Regions from separate parts of the Homo sapiens genome. Here regions 1, 2, 3 and 5 are each linked to region 4. Evidence: fine-mapped expression QTL. A gene starts in region 4. Each other region holds a variant in brackets. All regions are shown on one strand. Distances are between the middles of the regions. Region 1 has its middle 4.7 kb from the start of ZC3H18-DT. Region 2 holds the start of HSALR1 (HSP90AB1 associated lncRNA 1). Region 3 overlaps PIEZO1 (piezo type mechanosensitive ion channel component 1 (Er blood group)). Region 4 holds the start of PIEZO1 (piezo type mechanosensitive ion channel component 1 (Er blood group)). Region 5 overlaps PIEZO1 (piezo type mechanosensitive ion channel component 1 (Er blood group)).

Region 1 (4,201 bases), 230 kb before region 4:
TCCAGCCTTGCAAGGCGCCAAGCAAGGGGCATCTCTCTCCCTCGGGCCTCATCCTGCACGCCTGACCTTTCCCATCCCAGGTGTTATCATAACCTTTTAGCAGAATTTTGCCTTAATTCTCAGCATTTTTGGCTTTCTTTTTTTTTTTTTTTTGATAGAGTTTCACTCTTGTCACCCAGGCTGCAGTGCAGTGAGGCGATCTCGGCTCACTCCAACCTCCGCCTCCAGGGTTCAAGCGATCCTCCTGCCTCAGTCTCCCAAGTAGCTGGGATTACAGGCGCATACCACCACACTCAGCTAATTTTTTGTTTTAAGTAGAGACAGGGTTTCGCCATGTTGGCCAGGCTGGTCTTGAACTCTTGACCTCAAGTGATCTGCCTGCCTCAGCCTCCCAAAGTGCTGGGATTACAGGCATGAGCCATTGCACCCGGCCCCCATCCCAGTGTGTTACCATAAACTTTTAGCAGAATTTCCGCTTAATTCCCAGCATTTTCAGCTCCAAGTCTTAACACTTCCCCTCTGTCTTAATGTGGCTCCAGTGGCCCTTCGTCTCTCCCCTGCCCCTTCCATGCCTCCCGCCCCATCCCCACCCCCTCTGCCCACCCCCTGGCTCCTCTCCACCCCCAGCCCCTCCACAGCTCTTTGTCTCCACCTCTAAGACTGGGGCTCCTGGAAGCCACTGGTCCTCATCTTATTATCATCCTGGTCTCCACGGAGCCCAGGACGGAGACTCACACAGCTCAGTGGAGCGTCGCCAAGCTCGGAGGGCACGCAGCACCCTAGCAGCACCTGCAATGGCACCTGTGCTCTCTCTCGGGAGGAGATGATGGCCCCAGCTCAGGGCCCAGAATTCGCGCCTGACTGTGCCCCCTTCCGGACCTAAGGACCGCCCTCTGCTGTGCTGGGACTGCCTATGTCTAGACAGAGCGGGGCTCACTCCCCGACCCAAAGGGTTCCCCAGAGTGTGGCCCCATCTCCAAGGCCCTGCTGCCCCCACTGAAAACCCGCCCAGCCCATGGTGAGCACCGCAGAATTCACAAGGCGCTTCCTGCAGACACTTTCTCCCAAGCGGGCCATGCCTTCATTGCTACTCAGATCTCCCTAAAGCCACTGATGTGGTTTGGCTCTGTGTCCCCATCCAGATCTCATGTCGAATTGTCATTCCCAAGGTTAGGGGAGGGGCCTGGTGGGAGGTGACTGGATCACGGGGGTGGATTTCCCCCTCACTATTCTCAGATAGTGAGTTCTCACGAGATCTGATGGTTTTAAACTATGCGGCACTTCCCCCGCCCCCCACTTTCTCTCTCTCTCTCCTGCCGCCATGTGAGGACGTGCCTGCTTCCCCTTCACCTTCCACCATGATTGTGAGTTTCCTGAGGACTCCCAGCCATGCTTCCTACACAGCCTGTGGAACTGTGAGCCAATTAAACCTCTTTCTTCATAAATGACCCAGTCTCCAGTAGTTCTTTAGAGCAGTGTGAGCCTGGACTCACACAGTCACCCATTTCCGGGACCTTTACCACCAGGCCAGGCAGCCACCAGTCACTTTACACACAGCATCTCGTTTCCTAGCACCTGGGCGAAAGTGCTGTTTTCAGCTCTACTTACAGGCAAGGATGGAAAACCCAGAGGGTTCAGCCAGCCTCACCTGCTCGGGAGGGCACAGCTGGGCCGCCTGTACTGCCTTAGAAGGAGAAAAAGAGAAATGGAAACAGGCTCCACGCTGGGGGCCACTATTCTTACCTCACCATAACCTCACAAGGACTGAGCACACCACGGGGGCTCAGAAACCAGGGTCCCCGCTCAGAAACTGGTCCCCTCACTCACACGTGATGTGGCCACTGAAAATGGCTGGGTGCCCTGGCCGGGCGTGGTGGCTCAAGCCTGTAATCCCAGCACTTTGGGAGGCCGAGGCGGGCAGATCACAAGGTCAGGAGATCGAAACCATCCTGGCTAACACAGTGAAACCCTGTCTCCACTAAAAATACAAAAAATTAGCTGGGCGTGGTGGCAGGCGCCTGTAGTCCCAGCTACTTGGGAGGCTGAGGTAGGAGAATGGCGTGAACCCGGGAGGCGGAGCTTGCAGTGAGCCGAGATCACACCACTGC[A/T]CTCCAGCCTGGGTCACAGGCAAGACTCCGTCTCAAAAAAAAAAAAGACATCCATGTCCCTAACCCTAACCCTGTGAACGTGACTGTATGTGGAAGAATGGAAGAAAGGTCTTTGCAGACATGATTGAGTTAAAGATGGAGAGAAAGAAGGCATCTGGACAGACCCGACGTGATCATGAGTTCTCCTGAGAGGGAGGCAGAGGGAGATTGGACACAGATGGAAGAGGAGAGGCGTGGGACCACAGAGGCAGAGCAGGAGCTATGCAGCCTCAAGGCACGGGAGCCACGGATGCCTGAGGCCTGGGAACCTGGAAGAGGCCGTGGGGAGCCTTCCCTGCAGCCTGCAGCCCTGCCCGTGCCTCGAGTTCCACTTCATGACTCTGCTATCAGACATCTGGCCTACGGAACTGTGAGGCGATATGTTTCTGAGTGTTTTTGTTGTCACTATTGTTGTCGTTTGAGACAGTGGTGCAATCACGGCTCACTGTAGCCTCGACCTCCTGGGCTGAAGCAAGCCTCCCACCTCAGCCTCCAGAGTAGCTGGAACTACAGGCGTGCACCATCTTTTTTTAGAGATGGGGGTATCACTATGCTGCCCAGCCAGGACTTGAACTCCTGGCTTCAAGCAATCCTCCCGCTTCAGCCTCCCAAGTGCTGGGATTGCAGGTGTAGCCACTGTGCCCAGCCAGCTTCTGTGGCTTTAAGCCGCCCATTGGTGTCACTTGTTACAGCAGACCCAGGACAAGCCACTCAGCTGAATGAGTTTAGAGTCTGATTTTACCCTTTCTGGGCCAGGAATGCCCTGCGGGGCAGGCGGCTGCAGCTGAGCCTTCTAGACCTCTCTCTACTGAAAATACATAAAAGGCGGAGGTTCAAGTGAGCAGAGATCGTGCCACTGCACTCCAGCTCTCCATCTCAAAAAAAAAAAAGAAAAGAAAAACCAAAGTAGCCATTGAGTAAAAAGGGAAATGACAAAAGAGTCTCGCTCTGTCGCCCAGGCTGGAGTGCAGTGGCGCGATCTCAGCTCACTGCAACCTCTGCCTCCTGGGTTCAAGCGTTCATCCTGCCGCAGCCTCCCCAGCAGATGGGATTAGGAGTTAAAGATGTGCGGTGAGTCCCGCGTCCCCCCATGCTCCGGGGGTGTGAGTCGCGCATCCCCCCGTCGGGGGGTGAGTCGCCCGTCCCCCCGTGCTCCGGGGGGGTGAGTCCCGCGTCCCCCCGTGCTCCGGGGGGGTGAGTCCCGCGTCCCCCCGTGCTCCGGGGGGGTGAGTCCCGCGTCCCCCGGTGCTCCGGGGGGGTGAGTCCCGCGTTCCCCCCGTGCTCTGGGGGTGTGAGTCCTGCGTCCTCCCGTTCCCTGGGGGTGTGAGTCAGGCATCCTCCCGTTCCCTGGTGGTGTGAGTCCCGCATCCTCCCGTTCCCTGGGGGTGTGAGTCCCGCATCCCCCCATGCTCCAGGGGTGTGAGTCCCATGTCCCCCTGTACTCTGGGGGTGTGAGTCCTGCATCCTCCCATTCTCTGGGGGTGTGAGTCCCGCGTCTCCCATGGACCAGCGCTGTAAGTCCCATGCCCTCCTGTGCTATGGTGGTGTGAGTCCCGTGTCCTCCCATTCTCTGGGGGTGTGAGTCCCCTGTCTTCCCGTTCTCTGGGAGTGTGAGTCCCATGCCCTCCCGTGCTCCGGTGCTGTGAGTCCCGCGTCCCCTCAAGCTCCGGAGCTGTGAGTCCCGTGCCCTCCTGTGCCTGGTCGTGCAATGTTGAGTTCGGCACTGAAACTCTCTGAGCTTCATTTTTTACCATCAGCACCCTGCTTCCCAGCGCCTTTGGGAGGAGCAAAGGAGAAAGTCGGGCCCAAGGCCCCAGCAAGAGGCCAGCCCTTGACAGCTGTTAGCTGGACTTTGCTTCCGTCCTGAAACAATACAACTTCTGAACCACACGGAGCGCTGTTGGCCAGAAACTCAGAATCGGATGGGTCCCCATATCTGTGTTTTAAAAGTCACTCCAGACTTCTCCAGGGCACAGCCCTGTGCTTCCGGGGCCTGCAGGCTGGGGGGAGGGGAGGAGAGGTGGGCTGCTGGGGACACTCACAGGCACCTTGAC
Region 2 (4,000 bases), 54 kb before region 4:
GGAACCCAGGACATGCTGAACTCACAGCCCCATCTGCCACAGAGGGAACCTCGCGACACAAAAACAAAGTGACCCTCCATGCTGGGGAACCCAGGACATGCTGAACTCACAGCCCCATCTGCCACAGAGGGAACCTTGCGACACAAAAACAAAGTGACCCTCCATGCTGGGGAACCCAGGACATGCTGAACTCACAGCCCCATCTGCCACAGAGGGAACCTCGCGACCCAAAAACAAAGTGACCCTCGATGTTGGGGAACCCAGGACATGCTGAACCCACAGCCCCATCTGCCACAGAGGGAACCTCGTGACCCAAAAACAAAGTGACCCTCGATGCTGGGGAACCCAGGACATGCTGAACCCACAGCCCCATCTGCCACAGAGGGAACCTCGCGACCCAAAAACAAAGTGACCCTCGATGCTGGGGAACCCAGGACATTCTGAACCCACAGCCCCATCTGCCACAGAGGGAACCTCGCGACCCAAAAACAAAGTGACCCTCGATGCTGGGGAACCCAGGACATGCTGAACCCACAGCCCCATCTGCCACAGAGGGAACCTCGCGACCCAAAAACAAAGTGACCCTCGATGCTGGGGAACCCAGGACATGCTGAACCCACAGCCCCATCTGCCACAGAGGGAACCTCGCGACCCAAAAACAAAGTGACCCTCGATGTTGGGGAACCCAGGACATGCTGATCTCACAGCCCCATCTGCCACAGAGGGAACCTCGCGACACAAAAACAAAGTGACCCTCGATGCTGGGGAACCCAGGACATGCTGAACCCACAGCCCCATCTGCCACAGAGGGAACCTCGTGACCCAAAAACAAAGTGACCCTCGATGCTGGGGAACCCAGGACATTCTGAACCCACAGCCCCCATCTGCCACAGAGGGAACCTCGCGACCCAAAAACAAAGTGACCCTCGATGCTGGGGAACCCAGGACATGCTGAACCCACAGCCCCATCTGCCACAGAGGGAACCTCGCGACACAAAAACAAAGTGACCCTCGATGCTGGGGAACCCAGGACATGCTGAACCCACAGCCCCATCTGCCACAGAGGGAACCTCGCGACCCAAAAACAAAGTGACCCTCGATGCTGGGGAACCCAGGACATGCTGAACCCACAGCCCCATCTGCCACAGAGGGAACCTCACGATACAAAAACAAAGTTACCCTCGATGTTGGGGAACCCAGGACATGCTGATCTCACAGGATGGCGACTGCATGGCGCAGCCGCGTGGAAGGAGGCAGAAGAAGGGGAGCTGGCCTAGGTGACGCTTGATAGCAGGTATTTCAACAAGGAAGAGGTGGACAGGAGACGGGGAGCTGGCCTCGGTGATGCTCGAAAGCAGATGTTTCAACAAGGAAGAGCTGGAGGGCCCAGAGGCTGAGGCAGCCCTGTAGCAACAGGCACACCCAGCGCCCAGACCCCGGGCTCTAAACCTCACGCTCCTAGAACTCGATTGGGCTCCCTGGAGCAATGGCTGTGAGCACAAGGCTGGGCCTGGGTAGCAGAAGATGAGGCAGCAGCGCCTGGGAGCAGAAAACAAGACGGGGCCGGGCGTGGCAGCTCACGCCTGTAATCCCAGGAGGGAGGCCTGTAATTTGGGAGGCGGGTGGATCACCTGAGGTCAGGAGTTCAAGACCAGCCTGGCCAAGATGGTGAAACCCCGTCTCTACTAAAAATACAAAAATTAGCCGGGCCTGGTGGTGCTTGCCTGTAATCCTAGCCAC[G/T]AGGGAGGCTGAGACAGGAGAATTGCTTGAACCCGGGAGGCGGAGGCTGCAGTGAGCCGAGATTGTGCCAGTGTACTCCAGCCTGGGTGACAGAGCAAGACTCCATCTCAAAAAAAAAAAAAAAAAAAAAAAGGGTTCTTGCTATGTTGACCAGAGTGGTTTCAAACTCCTGGCCTCAAGGGATGCTCCTGCCTCAGCCTCCCAAAGTGCTGGCATCACAGGCGTGAACCACCATGCCCAGCCAAATACGGGGAGATGATGTAACAGTGTGTGGCCGGAGGGGCCAGGACCCACTCAGCAGAGGGGAGGCCCAGGGTCTGCGGATGACAGAATTCTTGGAAAGCAGCCAGTAACAAATGGCAGCTGTCCTTGATGGGAATCCCAGCTGACAGACACACAGAGACAGCAGAGAGAAAGTCTGTTTCGTAAAACCACAAGGCTGACCCCACACAGCCCACCAGTGCCAACAGGCTGGGTGCCACTGTGGGGCAGGTGGGACGCCCCTGAGCCGGCCACGTGCACAAATGTGACTCCCCATCTCAGACCGCAGGGTGCTGTGTGCCTTGAGCAGACCTGCAGCACCAGGACAGCCACGCAAATCCAGTCTCACGGCGTCAGCAACGCTACCGGCCTCCCTCCGGAACTTCCCAAGAGACAGGAGAGGCGGGGGCGGCTTAGACCCAAGACAAGAGACTAGAGCAAACATCAGACCAGATCCCGTCTGAAAACCAAATGGCCACAAAGAAGGGTGCTGAGGCCGGGGCTGTTTGAATGCAGAGGACACGTTTGACGATGGCACTGCCAGGAGACGGGACCACGGGTGTGGGGCTGTGGGCTCAGACACCCTCACCCAGGAGACGCATGCTCGAGGCAGCACTTGGGTGTGAGGCATCACGGCCGACCCGCACGGGGCCCGGAGAGGACGCAGTGCTCCTTGTGTGACTCACAACTTTCCTGAAGGTTTGAAATATTTCAAGATAGAATACTGGGCAAAAAAGGAAAAGAGAACAGCAGAGCCTGGAGGGGGCCAGGCCGCCCCCGAGAGACAGGATGCAGGTGATGGCGCCTGGGTAGGATGTGGAGCAGAGAGGAGGGACTGGAGGAGGCCAAGGCTAAGTCTAGGAGGGTGGACAGGAGTCTGGGGCAGGCGGGAAACACCCCCACGGGCATCCACAAAGCCACAAAGCCCACTCCCACCCAAGCCACGTGCCCCTCACCAATGCACAGGGCCGGGGGCATCCCCAGGCACAGCAGGTACTGGTACAGCAGGAACAGCGCCAGGAAGAGGCAGTAGTTGGGCCAGAGGCGGGCAATGGCCTGGCGGTGCCTGCGGGTGAGGATGGCCACCAGCCAGCAACCGTGCAGGGTCACCAGAAAGTTCATGCGCTGCCCGATCACGTTCACGGCCATCAGGAAGCAGATCTGGGGAGGGGAGAGGGCGGGGTGTGGGGATGCACTGAGTCTGGGGGGAGGGACTTTCTTGTCCCACCCAGCAGGCCTCAGGCTTGCAGCAGCCCTGCCTGGAGGCTGCGGGCATCAAGCAAGGACAGGGCCAGCGGCGCTGTCAAGAGGGCAGGAGTGGCTGGCAGTTGCCATCGTGCAGGGGAAACTGAGGCTCCAGGAGGTGGGCTGTACAGTAGAGCAGATCTAACTTGGCCCCCTGCCTGTTGTCAGCACCGACACACCACAGGAGTCCAGGGAAGCCGTGCCTGGCCCTGAGTCCCCCACCCTCTGTGGCCCAGGCAAACCCAGGTGGGGCCAGGCTTGCGGTGCCTGCACGGTGCAGCCGTCCCTCCCTCCCGAAGGCCAAGCCCTGCCCCAGGGGGAGGCAATGTCCTTGCCTCACCTCCAGCCCGAATTTGTAGAAGAAGAAGTTGATGAAGTACTTGAGGCAGCCGAGCAGATCCTGGTCCAGCTGCTGGCGGGTGCCGCTGGCAAACACGGCCTGGGCAGGCAGCGGGGCCAGCTGGTGCTGCCGGCGGTAGTGCTCCTGGCGCCGGTACACGATGGCCTCGAATACCAGCAGCAGCAGCACTTGCAGGTGGTTCTGCGGAGGGCAAGGGTCAGGGGGCAGCCGGGTACTCGCCCGCCCAGCCGCCCACCAGCCCTTCAACTCACCTGGATGTAGCCCAGGTTGGGGAACCCTTTCCGCACCCCAAACCAGTTGGCAGGGTCCACGGGCCCCCGGTACAGCAGGGACTGGCTGATCTCCGTGGGCAGCAAGTTGGTGCTGTTGGGGAAGGGCTGGCAAGAGGCCAGG
Region 3 (4,000 bases), 28 kb before region 4:
GGTGGGTGACCCGGGACCCACAGGAGCTGAGGCTGCATCACAGAGCAGGCAGAGACGAGCTGGGGGCATCGTGTGAACGAACGCCCCGGCGTGCCGTCCCGCTCCACGCCTGCACAGGAGCTGAAAGCTGGGGCCCCAGGCCCAGCAGCTGAACCTCCCACCCGAGGACACCTGTTGCGCCCCAGGGAGAGGAGAGGCCTAACCAGAGGGTGGACACACCTGCGGCCATCAGGTCACCGCCGCGGCCATCACGTCACCGCCGCCCCCAGTGCAGGCACGGGGCTGGGTGATCTGTCCCGTACAGTCCTGTGGCACTAGCCGAGGACCACGACTGTCACCTCCACATTGCAGACGAGGAGATGGAGCAAGCCTGGGATGCGGCGAACAGCCGCCCCCGCCGCCCCCGCCATGTGGCTCGGGCCTAGCTGGCTGTGGGGACAGAGTAACTTTATTTAAATGCTAATCTGCTGATTAACCCCGGGTCTCGGAATGCCTCCAGACTGGCTGGTTGATGCATCATCTTCCTGCAGGAGCACCTACTCCCTGGCATTCACGTGCAGGAAAGAAAAAAAAGAGTGTCTAGTCCTCGTACGTTTCTTCCTAAACAAACCCGGTGCTGCAGCAGGAATCTGGCCACCCCACCCGCCACGTTCCCAGCCACCTGCACATTCCTCCCAGGGCACGATACGAGCCCCAGATCGGGCGTTTGGGTTCAGAGCTCTACCTGCCTGGAGGCTGCCTGAGGCCATGTTTCCGTCTGTAAGTTCCTGCCAGTAAATAGGCGGGTACCAACACACTTGCTCTGTCTGCCTCCTTTTATTTCCCGGCTCCTTCAGTATCTGGGGGTTGCTTTGCTTATACCGCCTTTTCACCGAACGGTGGCGCCTACCCTCAAAGCTCCCATCTCCAAAGGGGACAGTGCAGAAGGCACCATGAGAGGCCGGGGGCCCCCAGGCCAAGAGCTGCAGAGCGGCCTCACAGGAGAGCCTCGGGCGGTGGACAGGTGGGGACCGGGTGGGACCAGCAAGTCTGAGGAGACAGTGGCGCTCAGGAGTCAACCTGGCCAGCAGATCCTGACATGAGAAACCGGGGCCAGGGGGTGGCAATTCCTGGGTTCCCAGCACAGGGCAGAGCCTCGGAGCGGGGAGGGCGGGGGCCACCCAGGAGCCAGGACAGCAGAAGAAGGAAGGACTGGGGCCTGGAGTCCAGGTGTGGCCCAGCACTTGGGTCCAGGGTCACAGGAGTGAGCAGTCAGAGGTGTCCTCAGCCATGGAAGGTATCACACACCAGGCAGGGAAGTGGGGCTCTGCGGCCGCCATCTGGGAGCCTCGAGGGTGGTCTATGCTCTCGGGGTGACTGTCCACTCCTCACGGGCACCAGGCCACAGGGAGGGTGTGCAGGACGCCCACACCCAGCCCGATGTCCACCAGGAGCTCAGTCTTAGGCATGGAGGCACCTGCCCAACCTGGGTGCCTAGAAGGATCCTAAGAGGCCCCTCCACAACCTGGAGTCAGTCGTTCTGCCTCGGGACTCTGGACCCCACAATGGCCGCACTGGCCACTGATGGGGCGGGGTGGGCTAATGGACCGGAAGGATCTCGTGTGACATGTCCTCAGGAACCACACCCACCTGAGTGCTGTACAAAACTGGTGGCTGGGGCCGGGCACCGTGGCTCACGCCTGTAATCCCAGCACTTTGGGAGGCCGAGGCGGGAAGATGGCTCAAGCCCGCCATCTCATGGTCAGGAGTTCGAAACCAGCCTGGCCAACATGGTGAAACCCCATCTCTACTAAAAATACAAAATGTATCTGGGTGTGGTGGTGGGTGCCTGTAGTCCCAGCTACTTGGGAGGCTGAGGCAAGAGAATCGCTTGAACCTGGGAGGTGGAGGTTGCAGTGAGCTGAGATTATGTCACTGCACTCCAGCCTGGGCAATAGAGCAAGATTCCGTCTCAAAAAACAATAAAAATAAAAACAAACAAGCCAGGTGCAGTGGCTCATGCCTGTAATCCCAGCACTTTGGGAGGCCGAGGCGGGCAGATCAGAAGGTCAGGAGATCGAGACCATCCTGGCCAACATGGTGAAACCCTGTCTCTACTAAAAATACAAAAAAGTAGCCGGGTGTGGTGGCGGGCACCTGTAGTCCCAGCTACTTGGGGGGCTGAGGCAGGAGAATGGCGTGAACCCAGGAGATGGAGCTTGCAGTGAGCCGAGATCAGGACACTGCACTCCAGCCTGGGCGACAGAGCGAGACTCCGTCTCAAAACAAACAAAAAATGGGTGGCTGGGGAGCCGCACTGGCCCTCGGTCCCTGGGGAAGGGAAGGGCTGAGGCAGGCAGATGGCAATCCAGGTTTAGACTCCAGGTTAGACCACCTGGAGGCTGAGCCCTCGGAGCCGGGGGCTGGAAGACGCGATGCATTGAGGTTAGGAGGAGGGACCTC[G/A]AGAGAGCTGGCAGCGCAGCAGCACCTGGTGCAGGCCCTGGGTATGCAGGGGGCGTTGCTGGCGGGGGGGTGGGGGGTAGTTACCTAACCTGCCTGCTTTCCCGTGTGGTTAAAAGGCTCCAATGACAGTGCCTGAGAGTGTGTGGACACTGGCAGCCTGTGAGAGCAGGGGCGGGTGGGAACAGGTCTCCAAAAGGACTGACGGGGCCTAGGAGACAGGAGAGGGACAGGTGCTTGAACAAGGGCTGGGGGCCAAGACGGGGGAAAGAGCTTCTCAAAGGAAGTGGAGCCAATGGGCTGGACTGAGATCCCATCTCCACCTTCTCCAGGGCTTCCACACCCAGGAAGGAGAGCCCATGGGTTGAAGCTTCGTCACCTGGGAAGCAGGAGAGCCCGAGGGTTGGAGTCCATGACCTGGGGGTTCCTGGCCCTGAAGGAGCCAGGCTGCGGGCCGGAGCTGGGCCAGCTGCCATGGCTGGAGGCATCACTCTCCTTGGGTCCTCCCAACAACCTAAGGGTGGCACCATCCCACCCCACAGACAGGCGAACTGAGCCCAGCATGGCCCAGCAAGAGACTCAAGTCACAGGCAGACTCCCCCAGCAGCCTCAGCTCCAGCAGATGCCCCAGGAGGCAGGAAGGGTCTGGGCCAGTTATCACAGATTTCACAGACTCCAGCCAGCCTCAGAAGGTGCCACAGAAAGGCCTGGCTGGACACCCCTCCGCCACCCTCTGTGCCTCTACTTCTCTGCCCTGACCTAACTGGCAGAGAGGATATAGGGCTAGACGAATAGGCCCTCCGGGGTTGGGGACAGAGCAGCTGAATCCTGGGAGGAATCCCCAGGAGCCTCCTCAGCCCTGTGGTCCCACTATTTCAAGCATGGGTGGGTTCCTGGAAGCGGCTGCCCGGACTCTCCTCCCACAAGGAGATGGCCATTGAGGAGCAACAGCCCTCTCAGCCCAAGTCCTTGTGCACCGAGACCAACTGTGTGGCCCTCAGTCTGGCATTCAAGGCTCCCACCACTCTGGGTTAAGTGTCAGCTGACCCTGTGGGCTTCCTGCCACTCCCTGACAGACCAACATCGTGCTGCATCCCAGCCTTGGCCCCAGCAGTGGCCTGGCCTGGGGGCAACCCTGGCTTCTGTGAGCTCTGTCCCCACCCATCGTCACTCAGCCATCCCCAGGGCTCCTCCTGCTGTGATGCCAGTCATACCCGTGGCTCATAGCAGCTCATGCGTAACTGCTTCTCCCTGAGCCTATGACAGAGGCAGTGCTTGGAAATGCAAACCCACTGCCCCCACTCCACAGGCACCCACGGACTCACAAGACACAGCAGATGCAGGAACAGCCTCGGCACCCACCTGCAGAGCAGGCCAAGCGGCAGGGGGTGCGGCAGAACCCTGTGGGTCGTGTCTGTATGTGCCCTGCAGAATGACACCACTGGGCTCTGGCCCTGACCTCTCACAACTGCTGAGATGACCACAGATGAGCCCAATCTCCTCTGTCTTAGTTTGTTCGTCTATAAATCAAGAACCATAACTCCCTCCTCACAGGATTGTC
Region 4 (4,000 bases):
GCCGGCTCCACTTCCATCTCCCCCAGGTGACTGAGAGAAAACACTGAGTGAGGCCCAGGCCCCACGCCCCATCCCCAGACACAGAATCAGTGTGGGGTATGGCCCGGGCTTCAGCATCTTTCAAATTAAGAGACTTTATTTGGGACCAGTTTTAGGTTTAAGGAAAGTACCATACAGACAGACAGTCAGTCATCACTATTCTTTAAAAGTTTCATAGAAGACTGACACGGGGCCTGGGTGAGCACCCCTGGGCTACCTCCCCATCCTCCCCAAGGAGGCCAAAAGCAAGAAGAACAGTGATCCCTCCCCCAGATCCCCCACGCGGATAGCAATCGAGAAGGCAGAACCCAGGCCCCCTGACCAATGCCCAGGGGGCAGCAAACCACATGTGCCACAGAATCGGGCTCAACACCTGTTTAGGTACAGCCCATGAACTCAGGAGGGCTTTTACATTTAATGGCTGGAAAAATACCAGAAGAAGAAGATTTTGTGACATGAAAATATTTACCATCTGGTCATTTAAAGAAAAACATTGCCAACTCTGCCCAAGGAGCAGCTGCCATCTGAGAGGGGGGGCATTCCCTGCAGGGAGGACACCCGCTCCCACTCAGACACAAGAGGAAATGGAACGATCAGTGTGAACGGGACGTTTCAGAAGCTTTCCTGTTTCCCTCTCTAAGGCCTGTCAGCTCTAGACTCTGCCTCTGTGCCAGGCTGTCCTGCTTGTTTTCAAGGCACAGGAAGGAACACAGCCGGGCCCTGTTTACGGCCCATCTGACCCTGCACTGGGAGCAGGTCCCAGGCTGCCCAGTCCACACAGGGCTGACCGCACTGAAGAGAGTTGCTCAAAACCTCTCCTCTCCAGCCTCAATGGTTTTCATTGATTCCTGTCTAGAAAATCTTCCCCAAGTTTCACCACCTTTCTGTGCGACCGATCAAAACGCAGTCTGTCTGGGAGCCTCAGGCAGGCGGCTCTAGATCCCCAAAGCTAGCGCTGGGCGAGCTCCCACCTGGAGCGAGGCAAGGGCTCCGAAAGGGCTTTTACAATCAAAAGGCCCCACCTGCCGTGTCCATGGCGGACTCCCAATGCAAACCGTCCCACTTGTCCGTGGGTTAATTCCATCCGACTGCTTCCCAGATCAATCACACGTGGGGAGCCCCCGGGCGGAGGGCGCGGACCCTGGGTCCCGGCTAGGCCAGGGTCGGGGAAGGGTAGGGGTGCCAGGCCGTGCAGCACCAAGCCACCCGGGTGTGCTTCGCGAAAGGGGCACCACTGCCCGGCAAGCAGGGAACACAGATGCCAGGACTGGGGACCCCTGCCCCGCCCTGACACCAGGCCACAGCCTCCGGGGGTGTCCCCTCCCCCAGACCAGGGCAGAGGCCGGCCCCCGCCCCTGCGAAACTGAGCCCAGTAGGGCAAGGGAGGACCAGGGAGGAACCCACACTATTTTTTTCCAAAGTGTGGGACCGCCTCAGTCCGGCAGAGGGGGGTGCAGCGGTGAGCGGGGCTGGGCCCTGGGCACGGACGTTCGTTGGGCTCGGGAAGCTCCAAATTAAACAGCTCCAGGCAGGAAGCCCGCCTTCTCCCAGATTGTCAGGAAGTCCTGATGCAACTTTGCGCTTTTTTTTTTAAACCCGAAAGAGAAAAAGAGATTCGTGCTCCCCCCACCACCGCCGCGGCCCTTCCCACCGGGGCAAACACCGCCTCGCCCGGCGGCCTCCTCTCCGCAGCGCCCCGGCGGAGACGCCAGCCGCGCTATGCCCGGCGCTCGCTCGACCGCCCCCGTGGGCACGCGGTGCCGTCTCCCCCAGCCGCCGCCGCCCTTCCAGCCCGGCCCTGGGACAGGAGCCCCGCCGCCGCCTGGCGCGCTCATGCTTCAGGAATGCGGGCGCCCGGGTCGCGCGTCCCTGGGAATTTCCGCGCCCGCTCGCCCGCAGCCCTCGCCCCGGCCGGCGTCGTCCGGTGTCCAGGCCGTGGGGAGCCGAGACGCAGCCCCCTCCCGTCGCCCCCAGGCGCCCGCCCCCCACTCACCAGCCAGCAGCGCGCAGGGCAGCAGCAGCCAGTACAGGACCGCGCCGAGCACGTGCGGCTCCATGGCTGGAGGGCCCAGGGCCCGGCCCAGACCGAGCGGACGCCGCGGCGCTATGGGGCGGTGCGGGGGCCCCGGGGCCGGCGCGCCATGGCTGACCCGCGGGGACCCGCGCGCCGCCTTCTCCTCTTCCTCCTTCTCCTTCGGCCGCCCCGCCGGTGCCGACGTCCCGGGCCCGCGCTCGCTCAGGCGACCGCCCTGCCCCTCGGCGGAGCGCAGCGCTCGGCTCACTGGGGCCGAGCTGGGCCGGACGGCGGCTCCCGCCCTCCTCCGCCCGCGGGCCTTTATAAGCTCGGCCCCCTCCCGCCCTCCCCGGCGTGCCCGCCTCCGCGCTTCCCCGACGGCCCGGCGCGCCCAGGCACCCCCTCCGCTGTCCCGCGCGGCCCGTCCCGCCTCCGGCCCGCCCTGGTGCGTTGGGGCCTGGAGACCCCCGACTGGCGCTGGCCCGGAGCGGACCCCTCCCCTCCCGCAGTCTTGGCCCCGCGGCTCCGAGCGTGCGCGGCGGTGGGCAGGGGCGCTTCTCGCTGGGTGGGCTGCGGCTGGGGCCCGGGCGCTACATAAGGGGTCCCGGGGCCTCTGGCTCCCCCAGGCAGCGCCCCACGCGCAACTGCACCCCGCGTGCCCGAGCGACTTTCGCTTTGCTCCCCGAGGCGCGAGCACGCAGCGCCCCCTGGGGACCGTGGGGAGGCTCGGAGTTCCCGCGGCGGCCGGGCCTAGTGGTCCCGGAGGGAGCACGCGGGATGCTCGGGTCGCAGCAGTGCCGCGATCCGCGTTGGTCTGACGGGGGCTCGGGGGCTGCTCCCAGCCACGCCGGCCACCGCGCGCGGCTTTGCCCGGGTCGCTCTGGCGTGAGACGGTGAGAGTGAGAGCCACGGCCTGTGCACCTGCTGCCGCGGCGCCCTGCCACGGAGAGGTAGGGTCTGAGTCCAGGGTGTTCGGGACCCTCACCCAGGCCACGTCAGTTTGGCCTTCGTCTGCCCTTGAGATGGGCACAGAAAGAGGGCAAAGGGCTCTACACCGTTTAATTGGGCTCAGTTCATGGCTCTCAAACTCAGCTGCGTAAGGCAGGGAGTGGGGCTGGGGGGACTGTGGCCACTGAGCCTCAAGGCACTGGCAACTCATGAGAGCCCAGCACAAGCCCACACCCTCCAGCTCAAAAAAAAAAAAAAAAAAAAAAGATGGCGGGGCAGTGGCTCAGGCCTGTAATCCCAGCACTTTGCGGGGCTGAGGCAAGGGGGTAGGGGGTCGGGGGATCACTTGACGTCAGGAGTTCGAGACCAGCCTGGCCAACATGGTGAAACCCCGTCTCTACTAAAAATACAAAAATTAGGCCGGGCGCGGTGGCTCACGCCTGTAATCCCAGCACTTTGGGAGGCCGAGGCGGGTGGATCACCAGGTCAGGAGATCGAGACCATCCTGGCTAACACGGTGAAAACCCATCTCTACTAAAAACATAAAAAATTAGCCGGGCGTGGTGGCGGGCTCCTGTAGTCCCAACTACTCGGGAGGCTGAGGCAGGAGAATGGCATCAACCCAGGAGGCGGAGCTTGCAGTGAGCCGAGATAGCGCCACTGCACTCCAGCCTGGGCGACAGAGCCAGACTCCGTCTCAATAAATAAATAAATAAATAAATAAATAAATAAATAAATATACAAAAATTAGCCGGGCGTGATGGCAGGCGCCTGTATTCCCAACTACTCAGGAGGCCGAGGCAGGAAAATCGCTTGAACCTGGGAGGCAGAGGTTGCCGTGAGCCGAGATCATGCCATTGCACTCCAGCCTGAGTGACAAGAACGAAACTCCATTAAAAAAAAAAAAACCACCCAGAAATGGAGATTTTCATGGGAAGTCTAGTGTTTAAAGGCTGATATAGGCCGGGTGCGGTGGCTCACGCCTGTAATCCCAGCACT
Region 5 (4,000 bases), 62 kb before region 4:
GCCAAAAATGATGATGATGAAGTCGACAACATCAGCCAGGAACATGAGGGCATAGACGTCGGTGGCTGCGCGGTACTTGGTGTGCAGGATGTCGTGGAAGAAGCGCCGTAGCGGCCGATATGTGCCCTGGGCCCTGCGGAAGGGGGCGCTCAGCCTGGGCCCAGTACCCGCCTCCCCACCCCCACTCCCCAGCTGCCCCCGGCCGCCATCACTCACAGGGACAGGCAGAAGCCCTGCAGCCGCCGCCCGGCCGCCCTTACTCTTCCTCCAGAGCGGCTTGGCCTCTTCTCTCTCCCCGTGGGGGCCTCTTTCTCTTCCTCCCCCTCTTCTTCCTCCCTGTCCTCAGCTTCTGTAGGGAAAAGCTGACTTCTGCCTGGGCCCCCTGGGGACTGGGCCTGGCTCATGGCTCCTGACCACCCTAAGAGGCTGGCATTCTCCCTGTTTGACAGACAAGCAGACGGAGCACAGGAAAGCTCCCAGTGTCACTGGCAAGGAGACAGCTGGGGCTGTGTCCTCTGTCTGGGGCAACTGTGAGGGGCCAGCCCAGGCCAACAGTCACCCTACACGTGGGGAGCATCCCCGGGGGCAGCAGTCAGGGACGGCTCTGTAGGCAGAGCCGGGAGCTGTGGCTCAGAAGTGGCACCTTCCTGGGATCCAGGTGGGCCTCGCACTGGGCTTGGCCGTCTCATCTGAGAAAGACCCTCCCTGCAGTAGCCCCACTCAGAAAACTGGGTAGGCAGGAGGTTGTGAGGCAGGGCGCTTATACCGATGGCTGCCGCTCCTTTCCGTGCTGGGCCCTCCTTCTTCCTTCTTCTAAAACGTAGACTGATGCGCCTCGTATCACGGGGCCTGAGCTCCACTTGGGGTTCTGGGGTCCCGTCCGTGGGTCCGACCCTGGCTTCCACCTGAATGTGGTCTTCGGTGGTGGCCGCAGGCACCCCTGGCCCCTCCTCGGCTCCCTGCTCCTCCTCGCCGCTCTTGTCATGCTCCTTGGATGGTGAGTCCTCCTCATGGTCCCAGAGGCCATAGCACTGAGGGGCGGGAGGGTGTGGTGAGGGGGCCTTGCCTCCCTGGTGGAGAGCACAGGTGCCCAGAGGGCCTGCCCAGCCCCGCATTGCCAGCCAAGGCTCACACTCACCAGCAGCTGGGAGCGGTGGAAGAAAAGGGCCATGAGCTGCACCAGGTCGTACTTGATGTAGCCGTCAGTCTTCTCCAGGCCCAGGATGCGGGGCGGGAAGTAGGGCTTGTTCTCGTAGCGCCGCAGCACCACGTGGCTGTTCCAGGGGAAGAACCCAAACTGGAACAGGTACTTGACGACCACCGCGATCTGTGGGGGAGGGGGCTCAGCACGCGGGGAGGGTCACGGCGCGGTGGGCCGGGCGCCCCCTCCCCCGCGGCCTCGGCCCACCTCGGTGAAGACGATGGCCGTCATCCAGAAGCGCTTGCTGGGCCTCGGGATCGACAGCATGGCCCACAGGAAGACGAGCACGGGCAGCACCAGCGAGCCGGCGGAGGCCGTGACCATGTGGTTGAGGATGATGATGAAGTAGCAGAGCAGCTCCGAGTGGGCGGCCACACACTGGTACACGGCCCGCAGCAGCCGCAGCGCCCGGCCCTGCCCCTCCGCAAACAGCTCTGCCTCCTCCAGCTCTGGGATGCGCAGGCGCCTACAGGGAGACCCGCGTGTTTGGGGGAGTCTGGGACTGCCCGAAGGCATGACGGCCCGATCTGTTGCCGGTCACAGTCAGTCTCCTGCCCCTGTTCGGCTGCTCCCCGAGGGCCATGGTGAGGCTGGTGTTGTGCGCGTCCCGCCCCCACCTGTCCAGGAGCAGCTCGCTGGCCGTCCGCATCAGTCCCTGGTACAGAGAGGCACCAGCCTCACGCTCCCCGGGGTCGGTGACTGCCTCCTCACTGCCACTGCGCGTGTGGTAGCCGGTGCTCAGGGGGCTGCCCATGTCGTCTGTCATGCTGCTGAGTGGCTCCTCCGCGCCCAGCCCACTGGGGAGGGAAGCCGAGTCACAGAGAATCCTGCTCTATGGCCTGACCCCAGGCTACAGGGAGGGTCAGGGTGGAAAGTGCCCACGGTCCTTTGGGGTACAAGGGAATGGCGAGGGTCGGGGATGGCT[A/G]GGCGATGCCCACACACCAGGGGCAGCAGCTGGGGCTCGGGTCACCCCCGCACCTACCTGGACACGGTGCTTGGGGCATTGGGGGCCTCGGTGGGGCCTGGCAGCGTGGCCTCGGCCTGGCTTGTGTACAGCTGATCCAGCACGCCCCTGTGCACTTCGCCGCCCTGCAGGGCACAGCAGGGGGCTCAGGGCTGCGTCCAGCTCTTGTCCCCACACGGGGTTTCGTGCAGTGGGCGCGGGACTAGGCTGTTAAGCAGGCAGGGGCGTAGTCAGGCAGAGCAGGGACGAGCGTGGTGCACGGGCAGGCTCACCTGCAGGAGCTCCTGTGTGAGGAGGTAGCGCTCTGCCCGCAGCACGTCGCTCATGGTGCCGTGGTGCCGGGTGAACTCCTGCAGCCAGCGTGTCAGCTCATCCACTAGCGCCTGCCCCAGCATCCACAGGAACTGCGCCGTGCTCAGCACCCTCTGCACCACATGGCTCCGGCCTGCGGGAGGGCGGGAGGGGGCGCTGGAGGGGCAGCCTGTGGGGCCAAGAGAGACCTCCCACTCCCCAGCCCCGGGCCCACGTACCTGCCGCTGCCTCCTCGGGGCCCTCTGCTGGCTCCACCTCCTGGCTGGGACCACCTCCTGGGCACAGGATGCTGGTGAGTGACTGGCAGTCCCGCGGCTTCCCCTCAGAGTCCCCACGCCCCCCAGCTCACCTGTGGGTAGCTGTCCTGCCTGTTCCTGCCTTGCCTGCTCCTGCTCCTGCTGCCGCCGCCTCAGCACCGCCTGGGCGTTGGTCACCCATGCCTGGTACGCCAGCTGTCGGCCAGCCCCCGGGTTAGGACCCGGCCTCCCGAGCCATCAGACCCAGGCGGGAAGCTGGGGTTGGGCAAGCCGGGCGCCAGATCCAGATCCCTGCTCTGTGTCTCCCAGGGACCTCCGTGTCCCTGAGCCCCTCCCGGATGGGGACCCTGAGGGGCTGTGGGGGAAGACTCCCACCCATTCAGGAGTTGGGTGGGCTGGTCTAACACCAAGAGCCAGGGGCCCAAAGATGGACCCAGGACAGCCAGGCGGCCAGCACAAAGGTGTTGGGCCGGTCTCACAGGTCAGGCCACGGGCAGCCACCAGAACCTGGGTGGTCAGAGCCAAGACCGTGGGGCAGCAGGCTACACATGACCCATGTCCCTGTAGCCTGGTTTCCCATGGGACTTGGGAGGCCTGGATGGGGCGGGGTGGGCTAACTGGAGGTGGAGGAGCTCGGCTCCCAGGCCCTGGGGGCATCTGACACCCTCTATGCTGCCCTGGTCCAGGACCACAAGCTCTGTGGTTGGAGTGGGGCCGACGGGGCTCTCCCACCTCACCTGGAAGGCACTCTGTGCCGACGGCCTCGGGTCTTCAGGAACAGCCTCCTCCTCTTCCTCACTGTCGGACTCAAACAGGAAGTAGTCCCCGGAGTGGATGACTGTGGGCAGGCAGCACTGAGAGCCAGCCTTCCATGCAGGGAGACTCCCAGCCAGACCCCCTCCGCCTGCATGGGCCAAGGCCCGAGAGCCACCCTTCCCATGCGGAGTAGCCGGGAGCAGTGCAGGCACAAGACACAGGCCAGCGCGGTGGGACAAGACAGAGGTGGGCAGGGCAGCTGAGGAGCAGAGCCAGCGCGGGCTGGGGTGCAGAGTGGGCCGACTGCAGAGGACCGGGGAAAACCCAGGAGGCTGTGTGAGAGTTAGAAAAACAGAACAGGCCGGGCACGGTGGCTGACGCCTGTAATCCCAGCACTGTGGGAGGCTGAGGCGGGCGGATCACCTGAAGTCAGAGGTTCGAGACCAGCCTGGCCAATATGGTGAAACCCCATCTCTACTAAAAATACGAAAATTAGCTGGGCGTGGTGGC

Evidence for each region. PIP is the estimated chance that this variant, and not a neighbour inherited with it, causes the effect.
Region 1: its variant is the best candidate, but not a certain one, in a credible set for the expression of PIEZO1 in whole blood (INTERVAL, PIP 0.55).
Region 2: its variant is the best candidate, but not a certain one, in a credible set for the expression of PIEZO1 in left ventricle (GTEx, PIP 0.50).
Region 3: its variant is the best candidate, but not a certain one, in a credible set for the expression of PIEZO1 in whole blood (INTERVAL, PIP 0.67).
Region 5: its variant is the best candidate, but not a certain one, in a credible set for the expression of PIEZO1 in stomach (GTEx, PIP 0.87).

Annotation. Positions count from the first base shown.
Region 1 is chr16:88,555,183-88,559,383 of GRCh38, forward strand. No RefSeq gene overlaps it. Among named protein-coding and RNA genes, the nearest start is that of ZC3H18-DT, 4.7 kb to the right of the region's middle. The variant A/T (reference allele first, on the strand shown) is at 2,109.
Region 2 is chr16:88,728,749-88,732,748 of GRCh38, forward strand. It overlaps PIEZO1 (piezo type mechanosensitive ion channel component 1 (Er blood group)), which reads right to left. Exons shown (of 51, transcript NM_001142864.4): 20 at 3,859-3,984; 21 at 3,587-3,787; 22 at 2,958-3,162. HSALR1 (HSP90AB1 associated lncRNA 1) reads left to right here and starts at 2,432. Exons shown (of 3, transcript NR_103774.1): 1 at 2,432-2,700. The variant G/T (reference allele first, on the strand shown) is at 1,741.
Region 3 is chr16:88,754,815-88,758,814 of GRCh38, forward strand. The region is part of intron 1 of PIEZO1 (piezo type mechanosensitive ion channel component 1 (Er blood group)); the gene reads right to left. Among named protein-coding and RNA genes, the nearest start is that of PIEZO1-AS1, 14 kb to the left of the region's middle. The variant G/A (reference allele first, on the strand shown) is at 2,443.
Region 4 is chr16:88,782,869-88,786,868 of GRCh38, forward strand. It overlaps PIEZO1 (piezo type mechanosensitive ion channel component 1 (Er blood group)), which reads right to left and starts at 2,352. Exons shown (of 51, transcript NM_001142864.4): 1 at 2,033-2,352. The coding sequence starts at 2,096. RefSeq lists silencers at 1,181-1,500, 2,001-2,480, 2,521-2,850 and an enhancer at 1,583-2,496.
Region 5 is chr16:88,720,400-88,724,399 of GRCh38, forward strand. It overlaps PIEZO1 (piezo type mechanosensitive ion channel component 1 (Er blood group)), which reads right to left. Exons shown (of 51, transcript NM_001142864.4): 31 at 3,472-3,572; 32 at 2,827-2,929; 33 at 2,696-2,752; 34 at 2,438-2,610; 35 at 2,184-2,290; 36 at 1,819-1,998; 37 at 1,409-1,667; 38 at 1,139-1,327; 39 at 767-1,031; 40 at 217-349; 41 at 1-133. Among named protein-coding and RNA genes, the nearest start is that of MIR4722, 6.1 kb to the left of the region's middle. The variant A/G (reference allele first, on the strand shown) is at 2,127.